Regions from separate parts of the Homo sapiens genome. Here regions 1, 2, 3 and 5 are each linked to region 4. Evidence: fine-mapped expression QTL. A gene starts in region 4. Each other region holds a variant in brackets. All regions are shown on one strand. Distances are between the middles of the regions. Region 1 has its middle 14 kb from the start of HEXB. Region 2 overlaps GFM2 (GTP dependent ribosome recycling factor mitochondrial 2). Region 3 overlaps HEXB (hexosaminidase subunit beta). Region 4 holds the start of GFM2 (GTP dependent ribosome recycling factor mitochondrial 2). Region 5 has its middle 4.1 kb from the start of LINC01335.

Region 1 (6,479 bases), 95 kb before region 4:
TCAAATCCTGACTCTCAGACTTCCTAGTAGTGCCTCTCTGAGCTTCATATTCCTCATGTGTGAAACAAGACCAGTCCTATGTACCCTGCAGCGTTGTTATAAGGGTTTGAGATACTGTGTGTAAAGAATCTGCTATATAGCAAGGCTGTAAAAATAGTGGCTTTTATTAGCCCCCAGGGACCTCCTGCTATAAGCAGTGGACACATCAAGATACAAAGAAACACAAGTCATGATCAAGAATAGGTAACTATAGTGTAATTCATTAAATGTTCTGATGGTCTCCAATCTTGAGTGATTTAGTCTATGAAGGATTGTGTCTCCTTTTTTAAACTGTACACATATTCAAGTGCAGAAACTGAGACTAAACATTCATCTCTATGTTCATTAAACAATTGCATTTCCTTATTTGGATGCAAGTCTTCTGTCCATTTTTCTACAGAATGTTTATTGGTTTGTGCGGGCATTTTTTTCTTTTCTTTTCCTTTTTCTGAGACAGAGTTTTGCTCTTATTGCCCAGGCTGGAGTTCAACAGCACAATCTCGGCTCACCACAACCTCTGCCTCCCGGGTTCAAGCAAGTCTCCTCCCTAGTAGCTGGGATGACAGGAGCACACCACCACGCCCTATTAATTTTTTGTATTTTTAATAGAAATGGGATTTCACCATGTTAGCCAGGCTGGTTCCAAAGTGTGAGCACTTCATATAGTAAATATACTATGCCATCACTAGCTGTGTTTGCCATGGTATTTTTTAAAGTTCAAAGAGTACCTTTAAATTTAGGTTACTTTTTCGACATACAAAATTTAATTTAACTATTTTTTTTTTCAGTTATGAGCATTATTCAAATCTAAGCTAAAAGGGAGACAGTCCTCCTTCTACCACAGATTTGATAAATATGCACTTTCAATTTCTTCTAGGTTTTAAGTAACTTACCTTATCAATAAATCTGGAATTAATTTTGGGAGGACTGAGATAATTATCTAAATTGATTTTTCCCTAGGGAACTCATCAATTCTTCCTTTGCTATTTATTGAAAATCCTTCTCTTTCTCCCTGATCTGTCATGTCTCCTCCAGCATAAATTAAATTTTTACACTGAATAGGATCTATATCAGGATATCAATCCTACATCATCGATCTGTTTGCCTCTTCTTAAACCAGCACCATGCTGACTGTAGAATGTTGACAAGCAGAGCTAGGGATACAGGGTGCCAAGTGGCTGGCAGAGGAGAGAGGGAGGATTTCCAGGGAAGACAGTGTGGTCTTGGCATAAAGACAGCAAAACGGAAGTTCAGGGCCTCATAAGACAATGAAAAGTCATATCTCAATTTGGCTGAACACTGGGGGAAATAAGTAAGAGACTGGGGAGAAAAAGAACTAGAAGGTAGTGGGCGATGCAGAGACAGGCCAGGAGCCCCAGGTTAACAAGAACTTCCCATGTGCAATACCATAAGTGATATAAAACTGTGGAAGACGTGTTGATAGCAGCAGGAGGCAGACCAATCCTAGGCAGACAGGGGTGGGTCCCCAGTGAAACCTGACCTTCAAACCAAAGAGAGTTTGAAGCCTGAAAGCCAAGGTACTAGTCTTGCATAAATCCATGGACTGATTGAGAACCTCTCTTCCTGTTTGGTGCACTTTCCTCTGATTGATCCCCACCCTTCACCTATTTTACATATACCTACACTTCCCTAACTGGTTTTTTTTGTACACTCTCATGCCCACCTGTGAGTGGTGCCTTTGTTTTAGCCTCTTTTTTTTTTTTGCCTACTCACAAACCAGTCAGTACACACTCCCTATTCTGAGCCCATAAAAGCCCTGGACTCAGCCACACTGAGAGAAACCATCAACTTCAGGCGGGGGACCACCCTCACGTCCCCTCTCTGCTGAGAGCTATTTTATTGCTCAATAAAATTATTCTCCACCCTCCTCGCCCTTCAATTGTCAGCCCAATTTCATTCTTCTCAGAGGTGAAACAAGAACCCAAGACCCACCAAATGCGAATACACAGAAGGCTGTACTACTGTGGCCCTCTGCCCTCCGCCAGTGAAGCGCAGCTGCCTCATGTAACAGGAAGTAGCAGCAGGGCCAAGCCAGCCCCCAGAGCTGCCAGCCAGGGTGGGGCAAGATGCTAACAGAACTGTTAACATGCTGTCAGTCAGGCTGTGGATGGCAAGACTAAAAGAGCTAATTAGCACTCTGTAACACCCCCTCTGGGACTTTGGGGTCATGGGTGCACCTGCCCGGGCGCCACTGCATTCCTCTTGTTTAGATGCTGGAGTCCACTGTGGGAGTGGTTTGCAACACGCCTGGTCCAGCCACAAGACCCACACAGAGCCTGCTCCTGTGCTGCTTGGAACAATTGGCTGGACCCCGCACTTGCTCGCTCACACACCCCCTCCCACCAGGGGCCAAGCACATAGTCACGGTGGCTGCAGGATCTGTACCAGAATGCAGGCCGGGTGCAGCCCAGGAGGCCAAGTGGACAGAGCATCTCTGCAGCAATCCCAGGTCCCAGCAAGGCTGGCAGGAAGTCTCCTGACAGGAAGTCTTCAGCCAGCAAAGTGACCGAGAAAAGTCCTATATCAGTATTATTGTTATCCTCAAGGGATAGGGTGGTACACAGAAAGACTGATGGTAAAAAAACAACTACAGTAAGGGACAACAATGCCACAAGAGTACTGGCAACAAAGTGTTCCAAGACCCATAAAAATAATAATCGTCTCCTCATTAATCTTATGTATTCATCAGACCTTACGTCCACTGAACCCTTGAGTACTGGAAACAACCCAAAGGTCCATCAACTAGTAAATGGATAAACAAATTCCACACCCTGAGTACTACTCAGCAATAACAGGAATAAACTGTGGATACGCACTACAACCTGGATGAATCTCAAAATAATTATGCTGAGTAAAAGAAACCAGACAAAAAAAAAAGCCATATGGTACATTTGTATACAATTCTAGAAAATGCAAACTAACCTGTAGTGACAGAAAGCAGATCAGTACTTGTCTGGATGGAAGGTAGGGCCAGGGGCAGGGAGGGGAGAGAAGGGTGAAGCGGGGAGATTGCAAAAGGGCCTGAAGAAACAAGGGGAGTGATGGGTATGTCCAATATCTGATTGTGGCAATGGTTCCACCGCCATGTATCTAAAACTTACCAAATTGTATACTTTAAATATAGGCAATTTATTGTATGTCAATCACACTCAGTAAAACTGTAAAAATAAATTTTATCTTATACTTGCTGATTCTTTTCTAATAGATCTGGGCCAAAACTCAAACACTGATATTTTTTTCAAAGCTCTCAAGATGAGCCTGATGCACAGTGAGGTTAAAAATCCCAGGTCCCATGATACCTGAGATGCTTCCTGGGTGTCCGATTCTGTCTGTCTGCAATGGGAGGACTCCTTGGTGAATGCTAGGAAAGTATTCTCCTCACATGGAGACCGGCGCCTTGGTGAGAATAGGTGGCGGCCACTCGTTTGCTGTTGGTTATTCCTGCTTCTGTGCCTCACACTGGAATTTGGGCTGATGAGGTCTGTGTGCTTTGTTCCTGCAAAGCTTGCAGTCTGATCCAGGCTTCTGCTATCCCGATATATGTGATGCTTGTTCTCAGGCAATA[G/T]CCCCCACCCTGACCCCTCTCTAGCGTCATGACTTTGTGAACTGTCAAAGTGGTCACCACATGCCCCTCATCCATCTCCCTGCCTGTGGTACACACTGCGAGCCCTTCAGGGAATGTACTCCTTGCTCCAATAGGGCAGCCCTCCAGGGAAGCCCAGTGTCCCCTCAGCTAACCAGCATATCTTCAACAAAAAAGCAGTTATTTTTCCACTTGCCTCTGGAGGCTTCCAGCTGAGCTTTCTGGTCCTTTGCACACTGCACAGCTCTTCGTGCCAATATTGCCCAGAGCACTTCCACCAGTGCCAGCTGCCTGCCTGTAAGTCCTGGTGAGAAGTGAGCCCTCACTCCATGCCCCAGAGTCAGATCCACAGCCTCTGAAGCTATAGACCACACTGAATGCCTCTGACAGAGAGCAGAACCAAATTCCAATCCCTAGCCCCCAAGAACATTCTCTCTCACGAAGACAAACTCCCCACCTCTCTCTAGACTTCTTTAAAAGGGAGGAGAGGGCAGGCTGACATGCCAACTGACAGCAATGCCCTCTTAGCAAACCCTGCACTGGGTAGCTAGTGCCATTTCTGCTTCCCTGAGAGATGTCCTGTCACACCTCCTTGTTCATATCCACACGTCAAATTAAGTCCTTTGTCTATTACATTTCCCAGTCCCCTCCCGGTTCAGCTTTCTCCATCATCTCATATACAAGACAAATCGTAGAGAGTGGAAGGAAGGTTAAGAAGGACTATTTTTAAGAGGGGTAGGAGACATGCAGTTGCCAACATGAACTTTGCCCCCAGTCTGGAGACTTTGGATTTAGAAACCTTAGAAGGTTTGCTTCTTGTGGCATCAGAGCAGCCTTTGGTCACCAAAATGTTTCCAGATGGATTCAGATTTTTTTTTCTTAGCATCTTGGTACTTGGTCTGCATTAACAGATCAAATGAATACCCAAATTATATAAATAGTATTCATTAATAGAAAAGGTAGAGAATTGGGGAACAAGATAGTGTGGATTCCCACCAGATGGCACTGTTTAATAGATAAGGAAGAGAAAGTTGTTTTTGTGGCTAATTTTAGCAAAGCAGGGAGAAATGCTTGCCAGTTGCCAGAGCAGATTTAACTCCAAGCCGTCTTCTTGCCCTTCTGGACAGGCCAGTTTAGCTCCCCCTTGCCAGATGGCACTCAATCTCAGTTTTCATAATTGCAGTGACAGAATTCACAAATATTTCGGGTTGCTTATGGATATGTCATGAGAGTAGAAAAATGTGATCATCTAATTTCAGGAGCTCCGTCCCTGCCACAGAATGTTCCCACTTCTGCAGGAGTTAGGCAGCTTTGCTTGCTTGTCTGCCCAGGTCCTAGGCTGTCCACCCACCTCAACAAATTGTATCACTGTCCATGGGGATGCTGAAGTGGCTCACTAGGCATCCATCCATCTCCCCTCCTCCCAGTGTGTCCTCCGGTAGAACAGAGGCTGGCAACTACACTTCCCAGACTCCCTTGCTGCTGGGGTTCCATGTTCTTTAGTTTCTGCTCATTAGATGTGATTGCATGAGCCTTGAATTCAGAAGTGAGTTAGGTGGAGACTGAGACAGGGCATGACGTATCCCTTTGCTGTGTAGACTGGAGCTGAAATGGTGTAATTCTAGAGTTAGCACCTATAGCAGAGGCTTCTCCATCCGGCATGCAGCTTCCTGGTCATGACAAGAGCAGTTACTCAAGAAATTTCAGCCAAGAGCCAAGTTCTTCAGCTCTCACAAGGATTCTGTGAGCCACTCGATACTCTGTAATTAGTTAATTCCTCCTAAAGCTAGCTGGAGTGGATTCTGTTCTGTCAATCTACAATAATCAAAAGGGTCAGAATTTAGTTATACTCAAAGTGTGAGGATGAACCACCCAGAAACACCAACTCCAAAGGAATGGAGTTGGCATTCAGAAGCAGGGAAGTAAATATTTCATTTGTATAGGTGGGAACAGAGGAATTTTTAGCAGAATTACAACATTATTATTCATGTGAGTCTGGCACATTCTTATAGCAATTTAATTGGCTATAGGCCATGTTTCTTTTTGAGAAGGGTACATTTGACATTTTTTAACAGAGGGTGTAATAATCATTGGTTGTTTGTCATTTGGTCTAAACAAACTAGAACAAAGGGGAAGTTAAATCTATAACAAGAGTCCAAGGTCATCAATTAAGAAGAAAGGAGGTTTTCAGCCAGGCGTGGTGGCTCAAGCCTGTAATCCCGGCACTTTGGGAGGCCGAGGCGGGCAGATCACAAGGTCAGGAGATCGAGACCATCCTGGCTAACATGGTGAAACCCCGTCTCTACTAAAAATACGAAAAAATTAGCCAGGTATGGTGGCAGGCGCCTGTCGTCCCAGCTGCTCAGGAGGCTGAGGCAGGAGAATGGCGTGAACCCGGGAGGCGGAGCTTGCAGTGAGCTGAGATTGCGCCACTGCACTCCAGTCTGGGAGACAGAGCAAGACTCTGTCTCAGAAAAAAAAAAAAAAAAGAAGAAGAAGAAAGGAGGTTTTTATCTCAGATGCCATTTATTTATCTCTAGTCATTATACAGAATGAGAAAAATAAGAAAGTAAGCTAATCTATAATCTGAGAACAGAAGTTGTAAGCATATGTGATGCGGATCACAGTCACATCTCTGTCAAGGCTTAAGGCATTTTTGGAGGTTCCAAAAAGCTTCTAAATTTTATTTATTTTCTCAGTTCTCTGTAACTAAGCATTGAATGACTGATAGATTATCTACCTGTAAGTCTGAGCTAGAAATCTGATAAATTTCCTAAATTCCTCTTTTCCTCATTTCCCATAGCTAGCTGATCCACAGATATTGTGAGGATATTAT
Region 2 (6,479 bases), 37 kb before region 4:
GCTTACGTTTTATACTGTGAAACATTTTCTATTTAAAATTATACAGGCTGGATGTGGTGGCTTACACCTGTAATCCCACCCAGCACTTTGGGAAGCCAAAGTGGGAGGATTACTTGAGGCCAGGAATTTGAGACTAGCCTGGGCAATATAGCAAGACTCCGTCTCTGTAAAAAATAATAAAAATTAGCTGAGTATGGTAGTGCACACCTGTAGTCCTAGCTACTTGGGAGACTGAGGCGGGAGGATTGCTGGAGCCCAGGAGTTCAAGGCTACAGTCAGCTAAGATCTTGCCATTGTATGCCAGCCTGCTCAACAGAGCAAGACATTGTCTCAATATATACATGTTTATATATAAATATACGTTTATATATGAGTATATACATATTTATGTACAAGCTAAAAATGAGCATTCATGAAACCTAAAACTACTAAAGAGAGTATTACCAATATTTAGATGCCTTCTGAAGCAACCACTATCATATGTTATCCTCATTATTTTCTTTAGTGTTATATCACATATGCATGTATTTCTAAGCAATAGTTTACTTCTGCTTCATTTTAAATTTGTTATGCCATATGTATACGGCAACTTTTTTGTTCTATGTGTTTGGGAGAGTCGTCTGCACTATTTTCCGACTCCAGCCCTACTCCCCAACTTCTAACAGTCAGCACTTGGCATTCCACTATGAGGAAGACCCCTCCCTCTTCTTCCCTATTTACCTATGTATTATTATAAGTATGAACTTAGAAACTATTTTTTCCCAATGGTCTATACTTGGTATTCAAATTAATCCAGATTTGGCCAGCAGAGTCTCTTCAAGCTGGTTCCTGTGTCCTTATATACCCCCTCACCATCATTTTTTGACCATTTCCTCTCTCACACATAGCATGATATTCCATTATCCTTTCTTATGTTTTATTTCATTTTTAATTAACAAATAATTGTATATATTTATGGGGTATGTGATGTTTCAATACATGTATACATCGTGGAATGATAAAAATCAGGCAAATTAACATCTATCATGTCAAAAAACTTATTTCTTTGTACTGAGATTTAAAATATAAATTATTAACTATAGTCACTGTGCTGTGTAACAGATCATGAGAACCTATTTCTCCTGTCCAGCTGAAACTCCGTACCCCACTTCATCAACATCTCTCCTTTCCCCAGCTTTCCAATCCTCAGCCTCTGGTAGCCATCATTCTACTCTTCTACAAGTTAGACTTTTAAAAGTTCCACATATGTGAGATCATGCCCATCGCACCTATTTTTGATCGTTTCTTGTTCCTTACTAACACAAGTGGCCCTTGAATAATGTGGGGGCTAGGCGTGCTAAACCCCCATGCAGTAAAAAATACATGCCTAAATTTTGACTCCCCTGAAACTTAACTACTATAGAATACTGTTAACAGGAAGACTTACCAACAAATAAACAGTCAATTAACACGTTACATGTATTTTATATTGTATTTTTACAATAAACTAGAAAAAAAAGTTACCAAGAAAATCGTAAGAGAAAATATATTTACTATTTATTAAGTAAAAGTAGAACATCATAAAGGTCTTTATCCTCGTCATCTTTGCACTGAATAGCCTGAGGAGTAAGAAAAGGAGGGGTTTGGCTTGCTGTCTGAGGGATGGCAAAGGCAGGACAATAATCCATGTGTAAGTGTACCTGCATACATACTTTAAACCCATGTTGTTCAAGGGTCAACTGTACTTTCTATCGCCTCTCTTATTTCTTCAAAGATAGTATTTTATATTCTACATCTCATAATTCCAATAACTGAAGCCTTTGCTGGTATGACTACCTATTGTTTCTATTGCCTTTTTGCTCATTGTGCTTTTTCTCATGGTTTTCTGATTTAATTTTATTATGAGTTAATATTCTTTTATGTGTGGGGGTTTCTTTTTTTTTTTTTTTTTTTTTTTTTTGAGATGGCGTCTCACTCTGTTGCCTGGGTTGGAGTGTAATGGCACGATCTCAGCTCACTGCAACTTCGCCTCTGGGATTCAAGCAATTCTCCTGCCTCATCCTCCTGAGTAGCTGGGATTATAGGCACTCGCCACCATTCCCAGCTAGTTTTTGTATTTTTAGTAGAAACGGGGTCACCATATTGGCCAGGCTGGTCTCGAACTCCAGACTTCGTGATCTGCCCACCTCAGCTTCCCAAAGTGCTGGGATTACAGGCGTGAGCCACCAGACCTGGCCATGTGTGGCATCTGAGGCCTGGGTTGATGATATCTTTGGAGAAGCCCTTTTTTCCAGGTTCCTTGGGATACTACCAAGCCATGAGCACTTTACACTAAAGAACTAAGTTCTTCTTGGTCTGGAGTTTTTCAGGGCACACTGGTTCTATGAACTTAGGCTAAAGACCTGTATCAGAAGCCTATGATTACAAATTCTCAGAAATCTTGTTCCCTTACCATACAGCCAGACAAGCAAGTTTCCTTGCCCTCTGCTTTTGTGGAAAGGACTTTTCCTAGTTAATTCTTTCCATGAGGATATGGCTCTCAAGCACTAGGTTAGAGACAATTACAGATTCTTCCAGAATAACTCTAGCCTATAGTGCTGACTTATTTTCCCAGATTACTACTCCTACTTCCTTTTTGACTTCTGGAAAATTCTATTACATTCTAGTCAGCTCAGACATTAAAAGTTGTTATTTTGAGTTCTCTAGCATTTTTAGTTTTTCCAGATAAACAGTCCAGAAAGAGAACGCCTCATGCTATTTGCTCCTGTATTCTGCTTAATTTTTCAAGTTTCAGTGAAATGTAACCATCAGGACTTCTCACAAACTAATGAGGAACTTGAAAGTACCTGGTTATCCTAAACGTCTTTTTTTTTTTTTTTTTAAACAATTTCCCACAAACCTTTCCACACTTTCTTCTTGGGGGTGAGTAGCAATAATTGTTGTCATGTTTTTTGGCTTAAGGGAACCAAATTAAAATCATATGCAGAAAAATTGTGAGTTTTTACATTTGGGAATAGAAGTATAAAAACTATAGTTTCTCAAGATTACTATCAGCATAGAATAATCATATTTATTAAGTACTGAAACTGACTTTCTACTTTTACTTTATAGAGTAAAAATAACACATTGACTTCAAATTCTTAGACTAGTTCTGATAGTGAGGACTGGGACAAGCCATCGACTTCAGTGGCTTACTCTATTCCATGACCACTGAAAAGGACACTTGGTTGATGAGTGGTCATCCAGGAGATGTTATGGCTGATAATCAAATAGGGCTTTCTGTATTCAAAACAAAATCCTAAAAAAACAAAAAAACCCCACATACATAAAAACTGTCTCCTCTGATAGAAGACATTAGTGACTATGAACACTGCTTTCAGCAACTAAATAGAGAAAGAAAGACAGAAAGAGAGAAAAAGCAAATCCTAAATGTTTTACTTTTTACCTGTGGCA[C/T]GAACTGAGTTTAGGATGGTCTCTCGATATGCCACCTGGAGAGGCCCGAGATAGGTCTCCAGTCCATATTCCCTCTTGATTCGATCATGAATAATCTCTATATGTAACTCCCCCATACCACACAGAACAGTCTGGTTACCAGAGGAATGAAATAAAAGATTAAGGGTAAATTATATTTATTGCAGAATACTATATAAAAGTATGATGTTAATACATACTTATTTTTAATTAATTACAGTTTCCTTTGTAATTCTTTTTGGCCCGGGGCTTTTACATCAAAACATTGCTTTTGACTTTTCTGACTGGAATAATGAATCAATAAACAATGAATTACCTGGCCATTCTCTCCTTCTTCTTTGATAGTTGAATTATCTGCTGGGCAAGTAGCATCTGGCTAAGACTAATGATGCCAACACTTAGCTAAATACCAACACTTCCCAACCGCAAAGCCAAATTTCTGGCCAATGGAAGATGAATATAATTGATGTGGACAGCTTCTGGGTGGTGCCTATAAGAGGAGGGTAAAGCCCCTTTTATTTTTTATTTATTTATTTATTTATTTTGAGATGGAGTTTCGCTCTTGTTGCCCAGGCTGGAGTGCAATGGCATGATCTCGGCTCACTGCAACCTCCACCTCCCAGGTTCGAATGATTCTCCTGCCTCAGCCTCCCAAGCAGCTGGGATTACAGGCATGTGCCACCACACCTGGCTAATTTTGTATTTTTAGTAGAGATGGGGTTTCTCCATGTTGGTCAGGCTGGTCTCGAACTCGTGACCTCAGGTAATCCACCTGCCTCGGCCTCCCAAAGAGGTGGGATTACAGGCGTGAGCCACCGCACCCGGCCAAAGCCCCTTTCTTAACGAAAATGTAGGCAACTGTCATGACACATCAGAATGAGGGCTATACCTTGTAAATGGGGGGAATAACCTTTCTAAAAAACCTTTCCCAACAACATGGGCATTTCCCAATCATCCAGGGCACTTTACAGCTTTGTAAGCAGTCAAAACCTTCAGACTAGCTTGAACCTTCATATGAGGGAGAAACTGACTTTTATCTTTTTTGAACCAATGAAGACTAAAGGTATTAGCGTATTAGCTTGAATCTATGGAAGGGACTGGAGACTAAAGGTCAACTACATGGACAGTATGATCAAGCCCCAATAATAATTCTGGCCACCAAAGGCTCGGGTGAGCTTCCCTGGTTGGCAATACTCTGCCAAGAGGGTAACATGTCCCTGAGGATAAAGGAAGCATTGCAAATGTTTAAAACCCTCCCAGACTTTGCTCTAAGTGTCTCTTTGGCTGATCCTAATTTAAATCCTTTTGCTGTAATAAAACTGTAATCACAAATTTAAAAAAAAATCACTTGGTATAGGACTGCTATACTTTAAGTTAAAAAGTGAACTATTTGGGGAAAATAGTTGTAAAATAATACAAATAAAATGACTTGTTTATAGGTATCTGTACATATATACTTGCAAAACTATATTATGCTGCTGCATAACAGCACAGCAGAAGAACATATGTTTGGGTAAAAAGTGTGAAAGGCTATTCACCAAGTTTTCAGTGGTTATTCTGCAGAATGAGATGGAGGAACAGAGAAACGGACTTAATTATTTACTTGGTAGATTTGTGTATTATTTGCTTTTTTTTTTTTTAAACGTAGTGCCAGTTTTTATTTTATTTATTTTTATTTATTTTTTTCAAGACAGGGTCTCGCTCTGTCACCCAGACTAGAGTGCAGTGGTATGATCACAGCTCACTGTGGCCTTGACCTCCCAGGTTTAAGCAACCTTCCCACCTCAGCATCCTGAGTCGCTGGGACCACAGGTGTATGCCATCATGCCTGGCTAATTTTTAATTTTTTTTTTTTTTTTTTTTTTTTGTAGAGACAGGGTTTCCTTATGTTGCCCAGGCTGGTCTTGAACTCCTGGGCTCAAGCAATCCTCCCAAAGTGCTGGGATTACATTTCAATTATTTAAATAATAGGTTTTTTAAAATAAAACATTTCTGTTTTAATTACTGTTATCATACTCTTCAGTATCAATTAAACTAAATTACTACCTCATTTGGCTGGCATTTTGGGAAAACAAAGTACTCCATGCTTTTCCAGGTTAACTAAATCAGTTTATCCTTTTTAAAGATAAATTTATAACCTTTTTAAGAAACTCCTTCTAAAATCTTATGTAAACATTACCCTGTCCTCCTAAAAAGAGGATGCAGAATGTAATTTAATCATTTCTTGATGAATCAAAACATCTGTTCTACTGTGCTATATTATACAGCACAGTTCTGCACCTACTTTAAAACTCCACTTCCTCTCACAGTGTTACATTGTAATCTATCACTTCTCTCCCATTTTAGGTGTTTTACTGTCTTCAAAAGCACCTTCCAATCCTCCTTCTAGTATGCTTCTTTTATAAGCCTTAACGTAAAAGGCTCAAGGCTTTGCCTTGATTAAACCTTATTTCAAAATTTCACAAAAAGCTGTCTTCAGGAATGGTAAAAAATGTTGGGAAATAGTTTATAAATGTGAAGTGTAATTATATAAGGAAAATTTGCTTATTTAGCTTGATAGTCAACATAAAAGCAGAAATTTGTATTATGAGAGAATTTAAAAAGAAAGGTTTTTCTTTCAGGACACAGACTTAATGTTTTAGACACACACACACACACACACACACACACACACACACACACACACACACACACTCTTATAGAAAGGCTTCTGGAGTTTAGCAATAATATACCTACTTGTCCAGAGTCAGGATCTAGCCTCACTTTCAAACTGGGATCTTCACGCTGAAGACATTTCAACGCATGTTCCAAATCTATGGGATAAACAACTGTTATCTTTACATTTCATTTTTTAAATAATTTATTATATGTTCTAGTGGGTAAAACAGATGGATAAGCAAACAAATTTTGAAAAAGAAATTTCGACCAGGTGTGGTGACTCACGTCTGTAATCCCAGCACTTTGGGAAGCCAAGACAGAATGATCGCTTGAGCCCAGGAGTTTGCGACCAGCCTGGGCAACATGGCGAA
Region 3 (6,479 bases), 57 kb before region 4:
AGTCAAAGAAAGGGGTGACACACGGCACCGGGAAAATCGGGTCACTCCCACCCGAATACTGTGCTTTTCCGACGGGCTTAGGAAACGGCACACCAGGATATTATATCCTGCACCTGGCTCGGAGGGTCCTACGTGCACGGAGTCTCGCTGATTGCTAGCACAGAAGTCTGAGATCAAACTGCAAGGCGGCAGCGAGGCTGGGGGAGGGGTGCCCGCCATTGCCCAGGCTTGCTTAGGTAAACAGAGCAGCCGGGAAGCTCCACCTGGGTGGAGCCCACCACAGCTCAAGGAGGCCTGCCTGCCTCTGTAGGCTCCACCTCTGGGGGCAGGGCACAGACAAACAAAAAGACAGCAGTAACCTCTGCAGACTTAAATGTCCCCGTCTGACAGCTTTGAAGAGAGCAGTGGTTCTCCCAGCACACAGCTGGAGATCTGAGAACGGGCAGACTGCCTCCTCAAGTGGGTCCCTGATCCCTGAGCAGCCTAACTGGGAGGCACCCCCCAGTAGGGGCAGACTGACACCTCACACAGCCGGGTATTCCTCTGAGACAAAACTTCCAGAGGAACGATCAGACAGCAGCATTCACGGTTCACGAAAAACCACTGTTCTGCAGACACCGCTGCTGATACCCAGGCAAACAGGGTCTGGAGTGGACCTCTAGCAAACTCCAACAGACCTGCAGCTGAGGGTCCTGTCTGTTAGAAGGAAAACTAACAAACAGAAAGGACATCCACACCAAAAACCCATCTGTACATCACCATCATCAAAGACCAAAAGTAGATAAAACCACAAAGATGGGGAAAAAACAGAGCAGAAAAACTGGAAACTCTAAAAAGCAGAGCACCTCTCTTCTTCCAAAGGATCGCAGTTCCTCACCAGCAATGGAACAAAGCTGGACGGAGAATGACTTTGATGAGTTGAGAGAAGAAGGCTTCAGAAGATCAAACTACGAGCTACAGGAGGAAATTCAAACCAAAGGCAAAGAAGTTAAAAACTTTGAAAAAAATTTAGACGAATGTACAACTAGAATAACCAATACAGAGAAGGGCTTAAAGGAGCTGATGGAGCTGAAAGCCAAGGCTCGAGAACTACGTGAAGAATGCAGAAGCCTCAGGAGCTGATGTGATCAACTGGAAGAAAGGGTATCAGTGATGGAAGATGAAATGAATGAAATGAAGTGAGAAGGGAAGTTTAGAGAAAAAAGAATAAAAAGAAATGAACAAAGCCTCCAAGAAATATGGGACTATGTGAAAAGACCAAATCTACATCTGATTGGTGTACCTGAAAGTGAAAGTGACGGGGAGAATGGAACCAAGTCCTACTCTGCAGGATATTATCCAGGAGAATTTCCCCAATCTAGCAAGGCAGGCCAACATTCAGATGCAGGAAATACAGAGAATGCCACAAACATACTCCTCGAGAAGAGCAACTCCAAGACACATAATTGTCAGATTCACCAAAGTTGAAATGAAGGAAAAAATGTTAAGGGCAGCCAGAGAGAAAGGTCGGGTTACCCACAAAGGGAAGCCCATCAGACTAACAGCGGATCTCTCGGCAGAAACTCTACAAGCCAGAAGACAGTGGGGGCCAATATTCAACATTCTTAAAGAAAAGAATTTTCAACCCAGAATTTCATATCCAGCCAAACTAAGCTTCATAAGTGAAGGAGAAATAAAATACTTTACAGACAAGCAAATGCTGAGAGATTTTGTCACCACCAGGCCTGCCCTGAAAGAGCTCCTGAAGGAAGCACTAAACATGGAAAGGAACAACCAGTACCAGCCGCTGCAAAATCATGCCAAAGTGTAAAGACCATCGAGACTAGGAAGAAACTGCATCAACTAACAAGCAAAATAACCAGCTAACATCATAATGACAGGATCAAATTCACACATAACAATATTAACTTTAAATGTAAATGGACTAAATGCTCCAATTAAAAGACACAGACTGGCAAATTGGATAAAGAGTCAAGACCCATCAGTGTGTTGGATTCAGGAAACCCATCTCACGGGCAGAGACACACATAGGCTCGATATAAAAGGATGGAGGAAGATCTACCAAGGAAATGGAAAACAAAAAAAGTCAGGGGTTGCAATCCTAGTCTCTGATAAAACAGACTTTTAAACCAACAAAGATCAAAAGAGACAAAGAAGGCCATTACATAATGGTAAAGGGATCAATTCAACAAGAAGAGCTAACTATCCTAAATATATATGCACCCAATACAGGAGCACCCAGATTCATAAAGCAAGTCCTGAGTGACCTACAAAGAGACTTAGACTCCCACACATTAATAATGGGAGACTTTAACACCCTACTGTCAACATTAGACAGATCAACGAGACAGAAAGTCAACAAGGATACCCAGGAATTGAACTCAGCTCTGCACCAAGTGAACCTAATAGACATCTACAGAACTCTCCACCCCAAATCAACAGAAGATACATTTTTTTCAGCACCACACCACACCTATTCCAAAATTGACCACATAGTTGGAAGTAAAGCTCTCCTCAGCAAATGTAAAAGAACAGAAATTATAACAAACTATCTCTCAGACCACAGTGCAATCAAGCTAGAACTCAGGATTAAGGAACTCACTCAAAACTGCTCAACTACATGGAAACTGAACAACCTGCTCCTGAATGATTACTGGGTACATAACGAAATGAAGGCAGAAATAAAGATATTCTTTGAAACCAACAAGAACAAAGACACAACATACCAGAATCTCTGGGACACATTCAAAGCAGTGTGTAGAGGGAAATTTATAGCACTAAATGCCCACAAGAGAAAGCAGGAAAGATCCAAAATTGACACCCTAACATCACAATTAAAAGAACTAGAAAAGCAAGAGCAAACACATTCAAAAGCTAGCAGAAGGCAAGAAATAACTAAAATCAAAGCAGAACTGAAGGAAATAGACACACAAAAAACCCTTCAAAAAATTAATGAATCCAGAAGCTGGTTTTTTGAAAGGATCAACAAAATTGATAGAACGCTAGCAAGACTAATAAAAAAAGAGAGAAGAATCAAATAGACGCAATAAAAAATGATAAAGGGGATATCACCACCAATCCCACAGAAATACAAACTACCATCAGAGAATACTACAAACACCTCTATGCAAATAAACTAGAAAATCTAGAAGAAATGGATAAATTCCTCCACACATATACTCTCCCAAGACTAAACCAGGAAGAAGTTGAATCTCTGAATAGACCAATAACAGGAGCTGAAATTGTGGCAATAATCAATAGCTTATCAACCAAAGAGTCCAGGACCAGATGGATTCACAGCCGAATTCTACCAGAGGTACAAGGAGGAACTGGTACCATTCCTTCTGAAACTATTCCAATCAATAGAAAAAGAGGGAATCCTCCCTAACTCATTTTATGAGGCCAGCATCATCCTGATACCAAAGCCGGGCAGAGACACAACCAAAAAAGAGAATTTTAGACCAATATCCATGATGAACATTGATGCAAAAATCCTCAATAAAATACTGGCAAACCAAATCCAGCAGCACATCAAAAAGCTTATCCACCATGATCAAGTGGGCTTCATCCCTGGGACGCAAGCCTGGTTCAATATAC[G/T]TAAATCAATAAATGTAATCCAGCATATAAACAGAACCAAAGACAAAAACCACATGATTATCTCAATGGATGCAGAAAAGGCCTTTGACAAAATTCAACAACCCTTCATGCTAAAAACTCTCAATAAATTAGGTATTGATGGGACATATCTCAAAATAATAAGAGCTATCTATGACAAACCCCCAGCCAATATCATACTGAATGGGCAAAAACTAGAAGCATTCCCTTTGAAACCTGGCACAAGACAGGGATGCCCCCTCTCACCACTCCTGTTCAACATAGTGTTGGAAGTTCTGGCCAGGGCAATTAGGCAGGAGAAGGAAATAAAAGGTATTCAATTAGGAAAAGAGGAAGTCAAATTGTCCCTGTTTGCAGATGACATGATTGTATATCTAGAAAACCCCATTGTCTCAGCCCAAAATCTCCTTAAGCTGATAAGCAAATTCAGCAAAGTCTCAGGATACAAAATCAATGTGCAAAAATCACAAGCATTCTTATACACCAATAACAGACAAACAGCCAAATCATGAGTGAACTCCCATTCACAATTGCTTCAAAGAGAATAAAATACCTAGGAATCCAACTTACAAGGGATGTGAAGGACCTCTTCAAGGAGAACTACAAACCACTGCTCAATGAAATAAAAGAGGATACAAACAAATGGAAGAAAATTCCATGCTCATGGGTAGGAAGAATCAATATCATGAAAATGGCCATACTGCCCAAGGTAATTTATAGATTCAATGCCATCCCCATCAAGCTACCAATGACTTTCTTCACAGAATTGGAAAAAACTACTTGAAAGTTCATATGGAACCAAAAAAGAGCCCACATTACCAAGTCAATCCTAAGCCAAAAGAACAAAGCTGGAGGCATCACGCTACCTGACTTCAAACTATACTACAAGGCTACAGTAACCAAAACAGCATGGTACTGGTACCAAAACAGAGATATAGATCAATGGAACAGAACAGAGCCCTCAGAAATAACGCTGCATATCTACAACTATCTGATGTTTGACAAACCTGAGAAAAACAAGCAATGGGGAAAGGATTCCCTATTTAATAAATGGTGCTGGGAAAACTGGCTAGCCATATGTAGAAAGCTGAAACTGGATCCCTTCCTTACACCTTATACAAAAATCAATTCAAGATGGATTAAAGACTTAAACGTTAGACCTAAAACCATAAAAACCCTAGAAGAAAACCTAGGCATTACCATTCAGGACATAGGCATGGGCAAGGACTTCATGTCTAAAACACCAAAAGCAATGGCAACAAAAGCCAAAATTGACAAATGGGATCTAATTAAACTAAAGAGCTTCTGCACAGGAAAAGAAACTACCATCAGAGTGAACAGGCAACCCACAATATGGGAGAAAATTTTCGCAACCTACTCATCTGACAAAGGAAATATCCAGAATCTACAATGAACACAAACAAATTTACAAGAAAAAAACAAACAACCCCATCAAAAAGTGGGTGAAGGACATGAACAGACACTTCTCAAAAGAAGACATTTATGCAGACAAAAAACACATGAAAAAATGCTCATCATCACTGGCCGTCAGAGAAATGCAAATCAAAACCACAATGAGATACCATCTCACACCATTTAGAATGGCAATCATTAAAAAGTCAGGAAACAACAGGTGCTGGAGAGGATGTGGAGAAATAGGAACACTTTTACACTGTTGGGACTGTAAACTAGTTCAACCATTGTGGAAGTCAGTGTGGCGATTCCTCAGGGATCTAGAACTAGAAATACCATTTGACCCAGCCATCCCATTACTGGGTATATACCCAAAGGACTATAAATCATGCTGCTGTAAAGACACATGCACACGTATGTTTATTGTGGCACTATTCACAATAGCAAAGACTTGGAACCAACCCAAATGTCCAACAATGATAGACTGGATTAAGAAAATGTGGCACATATACACCATGGAATACTATGCAGCCATAAAAAATGATGAGTTCATGTCCTTTGTAGGGACATGGATGAAATTGGAAATCATCATTCTCAGTAAACTATCACAAGAACAAAAAGCCAAACACCGCATATTCTCACTCATAGGTGGGAATTGAACAATGAGAACACATGGACACAGGAAGGGGAACATCACACACTGGGGACTGTTGTGGGGTGGGGGAGGGGGGAGGGATAGCATTGGGAGATATACCTAATGCTAGATGACGAGTTAGTGGGTGCAGCGCACCAGCATGGCACATGTATACATACGTAACTAACCTGCACATTGTGCACATGTACCCTAAAACTTAAAGTATGATAATAATAAAAAAAAGAAATGCTTTAAATTTTAAAAAAAAATTCACATTTCTCCAACTGTCTTTTTCTCTTATTTAAAAAATTATTTTAAAACATTTGCAGTGGGATACAAATAAGCTCCATAATTGTGGTGAGTTAATATGTCTAGTAATTCTTTTTTGATCTACAGGTCTGCTCTTCCCACCTTTTTCTCCTGTAATTGTTGTTGAAGAAACTGAGTCATGTGTCCTACAGTTTCCCACAGTCTGGGTTTTGCTGATTGCACCCCACAGTGTCAATTAATATGTCCCTGTATTTACTATAAACTGGTAGTTGAATCTAGTCTTGATAGAAATTTGATTTGCAGTGCTGGGAGACAAGACTGCTTTTCCGCAACTGAGCACTTATAGGCCATAGTTTGAGAAATGTGCTAAGGAACAGCTCACAACTTTAGTTACAAACAATATTGAGTTCTAATTTTTCAAGTGACCTATAAAGGGACTGAGGTAATCATTAAAAAAAAACAAGTCACTTATTCTGGAGTCTATATGGGAATTTTTCAAGCTTATAGTAATTCAAGCTGATAGTCCTTTGAAGGACAACAGCTATGC
Region 4 (6,479 bases):
TTCTTTTACTTTTAAATTAAGGTAATTTCCTCTTATATTTCTTAATAAATTAAGGTAATTACTTTCAAATTAGTTTAGCTTGAAGATTTCCAAAGGTTATGACTCAACTAAATTTGGAATCAACAGCTGATGAGATATACTGGGCATTTTAGGCAGTAAAGGAGCTGAGGTTGTTAAAGGACACTTAATTTTATAAGAAATGCTTACATTAATATACACACTGGGTATTGTCTGATGACTCATTGCAAATATCCTCAAGTTGGTCAACATCTTGATCCTCCAAACTGTTACTGTCTGAAAAAATAAATATACAAAATCAAAAAACTAAACTTATGTATTACATGTCAGCAAGGCATATGTAAGTTAGACATATGTAATATGTATGGTAAAATGTATTACTTTTAAAAAGTTGGAACAATATTTTTAGCTACCAAAAATTCAATGCATCATTCAGAAAATGGAAAATTCTGATTAAATATGAGAAATATGGTTTTTAGGTTTAAAATGTCCCTTATTTGTCAATGTAATGTTTAAAGAAAGATATGGCGATACAGTAGAAATCAACTTATTGAAATTACAAAACATTGTATCAACCAAAATGCATTGTTATGTAAATGTATAGAATTAAGCATAAAAAGCTAAGCATCCACATATTAACTTGGTAATTTCTAATTGGCAGTAAAATTTATTGATTCATTTGTATACTCTGATTTTCCTACCATACCATGTAAAAACTAAATCATGTAAAAAATATATAAAAGCAAGTCCTCTTCCTCTCTGATTATAGAAACTAAGCATCTTTAGTTTAAAAACATTTGCTAAATATTCACTATGTTTCAAGTACAATATCAAAGCTATTAGAAATATAAGGACGCAGCTGAGACTGGGGATGCTGGGGAGACAGACAGACCATGTTAAACCAAGCTTGTCCAACCCGTGGCCTGCAGGCCACATGCGGCCCACGATATCTTTATATGCAGCCCAACATAAATTCGTAAACTTTCTTAAAATATTATGAGGTTTTTTTTATTTTTTTTTAGCTCATCAGCTATTGTTAGTTATCATTAGTGATTTTATGTGTGGCCAAAGACAATTCTTCCAGTGTGGCCCAGGGAAACCAAAAGATTAGACACCCCTGTGTTAAACCATTGTGATCCATGTTATTAAGATATGTGAAACCTCATTACTACTCCTAAGTCTGTTCTTTCTGGATCTTAGCTAAGAAACATTCACTACTCTTATTTAGAAAGTCATCTAATACTTACATTTGATTTCCTAAATATATTTGAATCTGTTCCCTTTGTTGTTTTTTTTTTTTTTTTTTTTTTTTTGAGACAGGGTCTTGCCCTGTCACCAAGCCTGGAGTGCAGTGGCTTGATCTCAGCTCCCTGCAACCTCTGCCTCCTGGGTTCAAGCGATTCTCCTGCCTCAGCCTCCCGAGTAGCTGGAACTACAGGCATGTGCCACCACACTTGGCTACTTTTTGTATTTTTAGTAGAGACGGGGTTTCGCCATGTTAGCCAGACTGGTCGTGAACTCCTGACCTCAAGTGATCTACCCACCTCGGCCTCCCAAAGTGCTGGGATTACAGGCGTGAGCCACCATGCCTGGCCTTGAATCCATTCCCTTTTCATTGGTAACGCCAAAGTTCAGGGCCTCATAGTCTCTCCACAGTTGTGACTGTAATAGACATTTTCCTCTTCTTTAACTCAGTGGTTGTCAATAAAAAGATAATTTGCACAACCCAGCCCTCCCCCGCCCAAGCCTATTCGTTCCCATTTATTCAACAAGAATTTACTGTGTGTCTGCCTACCCACTGCTTTCTAGATATCAGCGTTAATGCAGTGAACAAAAGACAACAATCTCTGCCCTCATACTGCCTCTACCGTAGTCAGGGGATACAGACAACAAACAAAAGTAACGAATACAATACATAGTCTCTCCCATGATGATAGGGTGCTGTAGAGAAGAATGAAGCAGGAAGGAGGAATTGGGACAGTTAGAACTGTAAGTAAAGAGATCAAGGAAGGCCTCATTCAAACAGTGACATTTAAGCAAAGACCTGAAGTAGATGAGGGAGGAAATTCGGGGGATTGAGGGACGGCGGGGAGGGGCGCATTAAAGGCAAAGAGATTATATAACGTACTGTACCTAAAATATACAAATGCTAGTTACTATTTCTGGTTTTAAAGAGAATGATGAGATCACCTTAGAAAATGGAGCCTTAAAAAACTGCTTCAAAGGCGGGGCTCGGTGGCTCACGCCTGTAATTCCAGCACTTTGGGAGGCCGAGGCAGGTGGATCACCTGAAGTCAGGAGTTCGAAACCAGCCCGACCAACATGGTGAAACCCCATCTCTACTAAAAATACAAAAATATTAGCTGGGTGTGGTGGCGAGCGCCTATAATTCCAGCTACTTGGGAGGCTGAACCTGGAGAATCGCTTGAACCCGGGAGGCAGAGGTTGCAGTGAGACGAGATGGCGCATTTGCACTCCAGCCTGTGCGACAAGATTGAAACTCCGTCTCAAAACAAAACAAAAACTGCCTCAAAGCCGGGCGCTGTGGCTCAAGCCTGTAATCCCAACACTTTGGGAGGCCGAGGCGGGTGGATCGCTCGTACCCGGGAGTTCGAGACCAGCCTGGGCAACACGGTGAAACCTCATCTCTACAAAAACTACAAAAATCAGCCAGGCTTCGTGGCGCGAGCCTGTAGCTCGCTACTTTTGAGGCTGAGGTCGGAGGATCGCTTGATCCCGGGAGGTCGAGGCTGCGGTGAGCCGAGCTCGTGCCCCTGCACTCCAGCCTGGGCGACTGGGCGAGATGCCGTCTCAAAATACCCATAAAAACAAAAACAAAAACAAAATACTGCCTCAAATACAAGCACTAAGAATTAATGAAAGTATTCTTTTGGTACAGTTCTTTTTGTTCATCAACTGAATCACGCTGCAAGCTGTGAAGTAATTAAGGGAACTTCTGCAACTGTGCAGTAAAAGGGTAAACCTGATAGTGTATTTAAGTAGACGTACTTTCTGGTAGTTAATTACTTCTTGACACTAGGGGGCCACTAAATACAAGTCCACTCAGCATTTGATTCGGTGCACCAAAATGCCTCAGAAATTTCTGGAATCAGTCCTGTACCTCCAAAAAACCAGAATGTTATCTTCTTCTTTTCTAACAGCTGCAAAGCCCCAGTAGTTCCATTTTTCTGTACACTAAGTTTTCATTCCTCAGTATCCTTCACAATCATGCACACATTACACAGAGTGACCGGAACAAAGATGAGTCGACTTCGCCGAATGATAGAGAAAAACTTCCATACTGAGCGAACACCGAGGGGAGTCCGGAGGCCCTGTTGTCCTCTTCCGTGGCTGGCTGTGTCCGTCGCAGCCTGAAAGGTCAGCGGTACCCAGCGCTGTGACAGGGTCACAGGCGCGCGATGTCTCACAGCTCGGAGCAGTACTCACCTGGCATTAGGCCGCGTGCCGCAGGCCAGCTCTCACCGCTGGGCTCTTGAAGCAGGAGGCGCGAGCCGCGCCAAAGTCTGCAACGGCCTCAAGTCTCGACGCCAGCCTAGGCAAAAGGCAATGTATCTAAACGAAAAGAAAATAGGCTTTCTCCGCTCTACCGCCTCGGGCAGCCACACCTCCACACTTCCGGCGGTGTACCGGCCAAATGCCGCCTGCCAGCAACTTCCGTCCTCCTAGCTAAAAGCGGAAAACAGAGGCTCGGAACCGCTGCGTGGTTCTTGCTCTTCACTCGGCCGTTTTAAAGGGTGACTCTTTCCTGTCCCGGCCTGCGTGGTGTGGGCTTGTGGGTCTTTGAGACCCGAAAATTGAGAGCGTTTTCGCACTCCAGCGGCTGCTCCTGGCGGCTCTGCGGCCGTCACCATGGTAAGGAGGATGCCTCGGACGCTCGCGACACACAGCGTCTGAGTTAGTGGGACCTGAGGACTCTGGGGCGCTGGGGTAGGGGGTGAGCGGTGGTAGGCGGAAATGAGAACTGCCAAGAGAAAAGGATGGTAGACCCGTGGGGTGGGCTCTGAGGAGTGGAAACAACTTCACATTCGAGACACAGACGGTATTTGCCAGAACACAAGCTTTGGAGCAAGATTTTACTCTGTCCTGTTTTCTTTTTTCTTTTTGATCCACCGCTAAGAGTCCTAAAAATTCCTGATTTCACCACAAGCGTGGTTATCAGCCCCAGAGCCTAATGGGAATATGGTTGTCCCTTGTACAGTCTTAGATGTCAGTCCCGCCCCCTTCATTTTACTGCTGAGGAAACTGAAGGCGTCCTTGCCAAAGACCAGACAGCTAATGAATTGCGAAGCCGGGCTTAACGGCCCAGATCTAACTGCCAGGTCCTTTCTCTTTGTGTTACGTCTCTATAATCTGCGTTTCTTTGCAAAATGGCATTCCATACACCCTTCATGTGATTGCTGCAAAGTTTATGTGATAGCAGTTGGTAGCAGCACACCTTGTTGGTTGTTACTTAACATTGCTCTCTGTGCTGGACTTGGCTTTGTATCATTTTTATTTTTGCAGCCTTAAAATACGAATAGACTCACGCCTGGCCGCGTGTTTAAAACGTGTCTAAAATGCAAAAAGCATCCCATACATTGCTGGTGAAAAGAAAAATAATGCACTTTTGGAAAACGGTCTGGCAGTAAACACACGTCCACATGAAGACTTGCATGCAGTTGTTTATTGCAGATTTATTCGTAATCACCCAAAACTGGGAACAACCCTGATACCTATCATCTGGTCAGCGGGTAAACAGTGGTGTATCCATACAATAGCATACTACTCAACAATAAAAAGGATTGAAGTTCCTATACCTGCAGCAAATTGGGTGAATCCCAAAAGCAAGAAACCAGATTCAAAAGGCTATGTACTACTGTTGATCCCTGTTTCATTCTGGGAAAGGCAAAACTGTAGGGATAGGTATCAAACTGAGGGTTGGGAAAGAGGATTGACTTAAAAGTTACATAGGGAATTTTAGGGGGAAATGGAAATTCTTTGTATTTTGATTGTGGTGGTTACAGAACTGTGTAGTTAGGAAAAACTTAGAACTGTATACCTAAAAAGGACAGGTTTTACTGTGTGTAAATTATGCTTCAATAAAACTGACTTAAATTTTTTAAATGTGAAATGAAGGTGTTATTAAAAAAGCAAATTATGTCAAGGAAAAAAGATACTGTAATCAGTTCATCCCTTTTGTGGTCCAGTAGATTTTGGACCATTCCCTAATGAGATTATTAGAGATGTAAGCCCTGATGCCTCATATCATTCAAGACCAAAATTTAACTTACATCATGTGAATAAACTTAATGGTGCAAGAATCATTTAAGTAAGTGAACATTTGGATGAAACAGGGTCTTTGTGCTGTGTAAAAGAAAGCATTTTAGAATAATTGTCAGTACTTTAAAAAATTAAAATAATATTTCTTCCATCATTATAGCCACAGAATGAATATATTGAATTACACCGTAAACGCTATGGATACCGTTTGGATTACCATGAGAAAAAGAGAAAGAAGGAAAGTCGAGAGGCTCATGAACGTTCAAAGAAGGCAAAGAAAATGATTGGTCTGAAGGCTAAGCTTTACCATAAACAGCGTCATGCTGAGAAAATACAAATGAAAAAGACGTAAGTGGTCTCATTTATTTGTCATAACAAGTTAACATCTTTTGAGTAATCATTATTAAAACAGATAATCTTGAATCTTTTTTCCTTCTTGGTAGTATCAAGATGCATGAAAAGAGAAACACCAAACAAAAGAATGATGAAAAGACACCACAGGGAGCAGTACCTGCCTATCTGCTGGACAGAGAGGGACAATCTCGAGCTAAAGTACTTTCCAATATGATTAAACAGAAAAGAAAAGAGAAGGCGGTAAGCAATAACAATTGAAGTCTTTGTTTTGTTTAGGAGAATTACTTAAATTCAAATTTGAGGTTCTTGTTTCTCGGTTTAATTTCAAACATGAAGTACAGCTATTATTCCCATTATTTAGATGTTGAAGTCTTTGTAAATTTAATAAAAAACTTGCTTTCTCATCATAAGGTTTTAAAATTTAAGTTATAAAAAAAATTTATTAGAATGCCATATGAAATTAAAAAGCTGGTAAGGAGTGAATTTCAAATTCAATATTTGTCTTCCTGTTTGAAAACCCACAGTGCTATGCAGTCATAAAGAAAAATACAAATGCTTCTTATTTGTGCTGCCCTGTAGTGCCAAACTTGGTTAAAAAGTAGAATGGTGGAAAACTCCCTGAGTTGTCACAAAAAATGTGGCTTTTTAAAACACCTGTAAATAGATTAGCAGAAATCCAGATAAAAGAATATGCAGTATTTATATTTAAAGAATTATTTTTACTGCCTTACACTATTTCAGTTTTTTCATAGAATTTGCACTCAAGGGAGGCATAAAACATCTGGTGAGGATTTTGTCTTGCTAGTGATCTACAGATCCATCTCGGG
Region 5 (6,479 bases), 450 kb before region 4:
GAAGTGTAGACATTTCTTTTAAGGAGCAGTAAGTAATTAGGGAAAAATAATGCACCTGGGAGGTGGGAGGCAGACATTATGGGAAGGTGAGGGGTGGAACTGCACAGGAACAAAGGTCATCTTATTATGCAAATTGAGTCCCACAGGTAATCTCTTGGAGCTGCTCTCAGGAGAATAGATGAAAAGTCTGTCTGGGCAGGGTGAAGATTCCCAGTCTCTTCTCTTCTCAGGTGATTAATCTTTCCTGGTTATTTGATGAGGTCCCTAAGGAAAGCATTTAAGATAATTGCATTTATTTTGGAAAGGAGCTTTCTTGGTCACATAAAGAAATTCCAGGAAGAGTCCTTCCTTGTGCTTAAGAGACAAGACAAAGGTAGAGGAACCTTCATTCTTAGGCAGCTTCTAGGGCTCCTCAGCACATCACAGCAACAGTCTTTGGGGCATCACTTTCTGGGCCCCAACATTCTCAAAGGCAAAGATTCTGTTTTATTCATCTCTACACATCTTCCTCTCTTCCCCTTTTACTAAGTCATGGCAGATATAGCCTGCTATGAAGTTGGCACCATTAGAGAAGGTATGGTTGCTTAGCTGTATCTGTGCCTAAAGTGAACATGTGTACTCTTAGTCACACCCAGTTTCTACTTCCACTTCTTGTGGAAACAGTCCCCATCTTCATTTAGAAATCCATTCATCTCCTATTTTCAGTCTACATGGTTCCAGGGAGATGACCATAACACAAGCTCATTGTGACATGTGATTCAGACCACCCAACATGATTATTACATTTTTCAATAACTGGCTTAGAAAGGACATTTAACCCAACAGGGACAATGAGATACCTTAGAGTTTTCTTCTGAGGTGTTTGTGAGGGAAAGAGTCACTCTTATTGCTTGCTGGATTTGAAACTAAGAACTATCTTGCTGTCACATGGAGTTGACACTTTTAAGCTTACAAAAAAAAAATGACCAAGTCAAAATATGATGATAATAACAGTTGTGATTAACTAACCTAAGCCCCCAAATCTATCATTCTGAAGCCCTGAATACCTTTCATTAATACATTCCCTTTTCTGCTTAAGCCTTTTTGAGTTTCCTGTCACTTATTACTGACACAGACTCCCTGAGACAAAGCTTTATAAGGACCTTCTTTGACTCCTATCAACTGCAAAAACAATATCTAATAAAAAACATAAGAAATGGCTGTGTGGGTGATATTTATGCTGGTGTTAGGAAAGCTCATACCCCGGCAGTAGAAAACATAGCAATTCAAAAGCACATGTTCTGGGAAGTGACTGCTAGCTGGGTCTGTTTTTTGCTTTACATCATTGCTCTCTTCTGTGAGTACTAATAATTGAGACTAGGTCATATACTTTATAAGTGCTTCAACAGCAGTGCAATTGGTCCAGGAAGGGAAGTTTGGCAGCTGAGTCACCTGTCAGGATAGTGTGTTGCAGGAAATCTCCAAATCAAGGAGAGACGCCTTCCCAAGGAGAGGTGGAGCTGGACCGGGCAGCTGTGGGAAAAGTTGGTTTCTAGCCACAGGCTTTTTCTGTAGGTAAATCAAACCAGCCTAGTTTTCCAATCTAGGCACAGAGCAGGCACTCCAGTCTCAGACACTTTGATCCTTTCCATAGAGGACAAAGAGGTAATGGGGAGAGGCCATAGCCTACTCATTCAAGAAGGTAGTTCTCAGGATGAAAGTTCATCACAAATGTCTGTCCTCTCTGGATTTTGGCAGCTTTGTTGCCTGACTTGAATAATGGATCGTGTCAGAACGTTACCTAGAGGAATATGCCCACTGCTTAGCGAGTATCTTTGACATTATTGACCTTGAGTAACTTGAGGAAACAGTAGAGTCTATGATTTGCTTCATCTGAGGTTGATATTTTTTCCAACTACAAATAGTAGCTTCCCGCTTCCCCAGGATCAGACTCAGAGGGTGCCTTAAACGTCAATGCTGAACTACTCATTTCAGCTCCAGGAAAATAAGTCTGTTGTGTCTCAAAAGAATTGTTCTCTGAGGCAAAACAATCTTTTGCTGCAACGCCCCCACAAAAGCCTGCATGAAAGGGTCACACAAGTATGTACAAAGGAAAGATCAGTGAAGATTTCCTTTCTTCTCCCTCCGTTTTTTTTCCTTTTAGCGCTGAGCTATGAACATGCTTAAAAGTCCGAGTGATGAGATCAATTCTGAATGGTCCTTGTTCTTCAGGATAAGTTCAAAGGTATCAAAAGTCAGCCTTTAAGGCTGAAGGAAAAATGCTTTCTACTTTGCCGCCAAAAGAGTTTGAAGTCTGGGGGCTTCATAGAAATTCCAAGGTGAGAACCAGAAGGGAAGTCATAGACTGTTCCCTGACATTGGAGGATATGGCTTTTTTTTTTTTTTTTTTTTTTTTTTTGTAGGGAAATCAAATCCACACAGCTGTGCCTTTGGAACAATTAGACACACCTAGAAGATCACACCAGGATGTTAAGAAAATGAGACAAACAGTGAGCATTCTGACATCATATACACTGATTGGCTTTTTAAACTCTGGGGCCTTTTCACACAGATTTTACCCAGATAAAAATGCAAGCATCTGAACCATATGCTTAAGTGTTTTCTCTGTACCGCTGGCTGGAGCAGCTGGCAAAACATGATCTAGGACTGCTAAAACTGTTCTGACAAAAGCACTTTAGTGGGGTCTGCAGGACAGGGTCTGAAAGATGTCAGAATTTTTAAAAGGTACTAATTGCTCAAAGGATGAAGCAATCCCTCTGAAAACTAACCCAGCATTTTAATAGAACCCAGAACAATACTGAGAATCTCAGAGGGAAAATCTGCTTGTTTTCTAACTCCTGCTGATAAAGAGGAAAAGCATAACCACTAAGCACAGGGCAATGTGGAAGAATGTATTGGCTTTTCAGGCACCTATGAATCCTTCAAGAACTGTACCCAAAACTTTAGCAATTGAGCAAGAAACAAAAGAGCAGAAGCCTATTACCAAATCACTGTTGGAAAGAAGGCTATTTGGCCTCTG[C/T]AAACCTCTGATGTCTGTCAGTTCAATCCTTCCAACAGCTCTTGCAGAGGTCCGCCAGGAAGACAGTGAGGGGACTGTGGCCAAGGGATGTGGAAGAATGTCCTGTCCTCAACAGGCAGGCCCATTAACCCTCCAGGGAGAGCTCAAAACCCACAACAGATCTCTGACCCAGTTATTTGCCTCATGCAATCAATGACTGTCTAATAGGAATTTATCAAACCTATGAAATCTTACATTACTAGGCAGTGAAACCAAGTAAGGACTAAAAAAACCGGATGCCATCTGAATCAATCAGGACTTGGGGACATGGGTCCCTATCGTGATGTTTTACACAGCCACAGTGCCTCTCTACATCAGAGGAGCTCACAGATTCTGGGCTTCTGATAATCATTTCTCAATCCTGTGAATATAAACCAAAACTAAAATTCTAAGTTCCTCAACCATCTGAAGGGACCCATCCTCTCAGCCGGGGGCATTCCAAATTTTACCTAAAAACTAGCTCAGGCCATGATGGGAAGAGGGAGCTGGACATGCCTCATTATACCTTCCTTCCTGTTGGAATTCAAGCACAGCTGACCAGCTTTAACATCAATACAGAGACCTTAAGATTGATAGAACAGACTCTTAAGCCTGATAAGTAATATTTACAATCTATTCTCTCTGAAGCCTGCTGCTGGAGGCTTCCTCTGCATGACAAAACCTTGGTCTTCAGAACCTCTTCGTAACCCAGACATTCTTTCTATAAACCAGACATTCCAGGTCCTTAGATAATAACTCTTTCAACCAATTGCCTATGAAAAAATCTTTGAATCTGGCCAGGCATGGTGGCTCATGCCTGTAATCCTAACACTTTGGGAAGCCAAGGCAGGCAGGTTGCCTGAGCTCAGGAGTTCAAGGCAAGCCTGGGCAACACTACAAAACCCCATCTCTGCTAAAACTACAAAAAATTAGCCGGGTGTGGTGGAGTGCACCTGTAGTCCCTGTTACCCAGGAGGCTGAAACCAGAGAATTGCCTGAACCCAGGAGATGGAGGTTGCAGTGAGCTGAGATTGTGCCACTGCATTCCAGCCTGGGTGACAGAGCAAGCCTCTGTCTCAGAAAAAAAAAAAATCTTTGAATCCATCTATGACCTGGAAACACCACCACCTCAACTCCCAATCCCCCTGCCCTCCACTTCCAGTTCTCCCGCCTTTCCAGACCAAACCAATGTACATCCTACATGTATTGATTTGATGTCTTATGTCTCCCTAAAATGTATAAAACCAAGCTGTAGCCCAACCACCTTTGGACACATATTCTCAGGATCTCCTGGGGCTGTGTCACAGGCCATTGGTCACTTACATTTGGCTCAGAATAAATCTCCTCAAATATTTTACAGAGTTTGACTTTTTTTGTCGACACCTATTTTATCAACAGAACTAGGAACTTGAAGATGAATAAATAACTCAATATCTAACATACACAAATACATCACAGTAGAATCCTTGGCTCTTGATCCCCATTGCCAATGGCATTTTCAATAAGAACAGAGGAACTAAATTAAGCAAAGAAAGATGGTTCCAGTATAGCCATTCTATTCTCCAAATGAGCAATTAATATGTTACTGCTGGCTGAAAGAATATGATATAAACAGATAACAACATAAAACACATCCCAGGTTAGTCAGTATACACACAAAACACATTAGTCTCTGATGATACATCCAGGAATTAATTGAGTATAAAATATTGTGTAGAAATGAGGACACTCTCATGGCAATGAAGAATAATAATGGTTTTACAAAATACAGCAGTGAGCCCAGCATCCCATTACCCTCCCCTCAGTCCCCTTCCTCTCTGCCTTTTCCTTCCGCCTGAGACAGCAATGCACAACTGAGGGAGTTGCCCGAGATGGCTAAACGGAGGGCATGACTTCTGCAGATGAATCAGCAGATGTGTGGCCTACTGCTCCCTCAGAACTCAATCAGAACTCAGGAGCGAGTCGCTCTAAGATGGTAATAGCCTCATTACTGAGGTTATAAAGGCAGCAACATGTCTTCTCTGAAAGATAAAACAGTATTATCCACATTTCATTTGGTAAATTAAATCCCTTTGAGCTTATTTACCATCTTGAAGATAGTGCTATTCTCTGTGAGCAGAAGTTTCAAAGTGAGATTATGCTAATAACTCATCCTTGTGTCTCATTGGCTTAGCACACAGGGATGACTAGTGACATGGTATCTGCACAGAGGATGCTCTCCCCTGTCTCCAGAATATGCTGGCATTCAGCCTTCTGCTTGGCTGGAATTTTTAGTTTTGGGGTCTTTTGATGTTTGTTTAGGGAGGGAGGGAATATTATTATTACCTTGACGCTACATACCTTGGAGGTTTTAGAACTTCTGGCACATCTATCATTTATTGAGCACCTACTACATACCAGACCCTGTGCTTAGTTCATGCACATGCATTATCTCAACAATTGTCTCTTGAGATGGATATCATATCTCTCCATTATGCAAACTGATATGTCAAGAAGTTAAATTTCTTAGCCTAGCTAAAAGAAATAGTAATGATTTTAAAATTGGAAGCTAAATATACATCTATTGACTATCTCAGAGCCCCCTCCCCAGGACTGTAGCTTTGCCCAACCATCAGAACCAGGAAGAAGCTGACACTGTGTCTGTGAACTGTAGCCACACAAACATGTGTGCAATATTCCTACCTACACAAAATGTGAATGTGTCAGCATTTGCCCAACTTCTTAATAAGGTACCTGCCATTCTTCCCAGTCACTGGGAGCCCAAGGACAGCAGGAGCATTTATTTCTTCCTCTGCATGTGAAAATCTACAACTCAACCTCAGTGCATAACCCATGGCTAGTAAAGTGGTCAAAAGAAGTACCTGGAGCCTACCAAATAAGAAACATGCAAATGGTATGTGAACCATCCAGTGTTACCAGCTCTCTGGTCAACCCAGTGCTGACTTTCCTACTTGGCCTCTTGGGAAAGAGATAATGATCAAAGTAAACAATTTTACCACACCTTAGAAAGTTCTAGGTATGAGATAGTTAAATTCAGGGAGAATACAATCATAAATTAATACACTTTTTTGATTATGAACATATATGGTCTGGTTAATGCAGAGAATTAGAATATGAAAAGAACCATATTGAAGAATATTAGTCCTCAACGTGAAGACAAGCTGATCTCATCACCACCTCTGGTCACCTATATTTCTCTTATTGCAGCTAATCAATATGGCCCACTATAGTGGGAATAATTATGATTACATAACTATGTATCTGAAATTTTGCCAGGTTAGAATCTGCTCAGCCTTTCCCCAAATCCATATCTCCCAATTTTGCGAGGCATGTGGTCCACAAGAAATCACTGCTCTTCCAAGAATTGGTATAGAGACAGTCAAAGGTCACCAAGGGTCACCAAGTCATAGGGCAGTTCTCAAACTTTTCCACCAAAATCTCT

What was found. PIP is the estimated chance that this variant, and not a neighbour inherited with it, causes the effect.
Region 1: its variant is fine-mapped to the expression of GFM2 in liver (GTEx, PIP 0.99).
Region 2: its variant is fine-mapped to the expression of GFM2 in whole blood (TOPMed, PIP above 0.99).
Region 3: its variant is fine-mapped to the expression of GFM2 in whole blood (INTERVAL, PIP 0.99).
Region 5: its variant is fine-mapped to the expression of GFM2 in prefrontal cortex (GTEx, PIP 0.97).

Annotation. Positions count from the first base shown.
Region 1 is chr5:74,668,490-74,674,968 of GRCh38, forward strand. It overlaps a transcript of HEXB not described here. Among named protein-coding and RNA genes, the nearest start is that of HEXB, 14 kb to the right of the region's middle. The variant G/T (reference allele first, on the strand shown) is at 3,626.
Region 2 is chr5:74,726,836-74,733,314 of GRCh38, forward strand. GFM2 (GTP dependent ribosome recycling factor mitochondrial 2) reads right to left here. Exons shown (of 21, transcript NM_032380.5): 16 at 6,187-6,263; 17 at 3,425-3,563. Among named protein-coding and RNA genes, the nearest start is that of GFM2, 37 kb to the right of the region's middle. The variant C/T (reference allele first, on the strand shown) is at 3,433.
Region 3 is chr5:74,706,540-74,713,018 of GRCh38, forward strand. The region is part of intron 6 of HEXB (hexosaminidase subunit beta); the gene reads left to right. Among named protein-coding and RNA genes, the nearest start is that of HEXB, 25 kb to the left of the region's middle. RefSeq lists enhancers at 1-130, 131-631. The variant G/T (reference allele first, on the strand shown) is at 3,598.
Region 4 is chr5:74,763,473-74,769,951 of GRCh38, forward strand. It overlaps GFM2 (GTP dependent ribosome recycling factor mitochondrial 2), which reads right to left and starts at 3,645. Exons shown (of 21, transcript NM_032380.5): 1 at 3,466-3,645; 2 at 208-294. The coding sequence starts at 270. It overlaps NSA2 (NSA2 ribosome biogenesis factor), which reads left to right and starts at 3,777. Exons shown (of 6, transcript NM_014886.6): 1 at 3,777-3,891; 2 at 5,459-5,646; 3 at 5,742-5,892. The coding sequence starts at 3,889. RefSeq lists an enhancer at 3,358-3,797.
Region 5 is chr5:74,309,150-74,315,628 of GRCh38, forward strand. No RefSeq gene overlaps it. Among named protein-coding and RNA genes, the nearest start is that of LINC01335, 4.1 kb to the left of the region's middle. The variant C/T (reference allele first, on the strand shown) is at 3,020.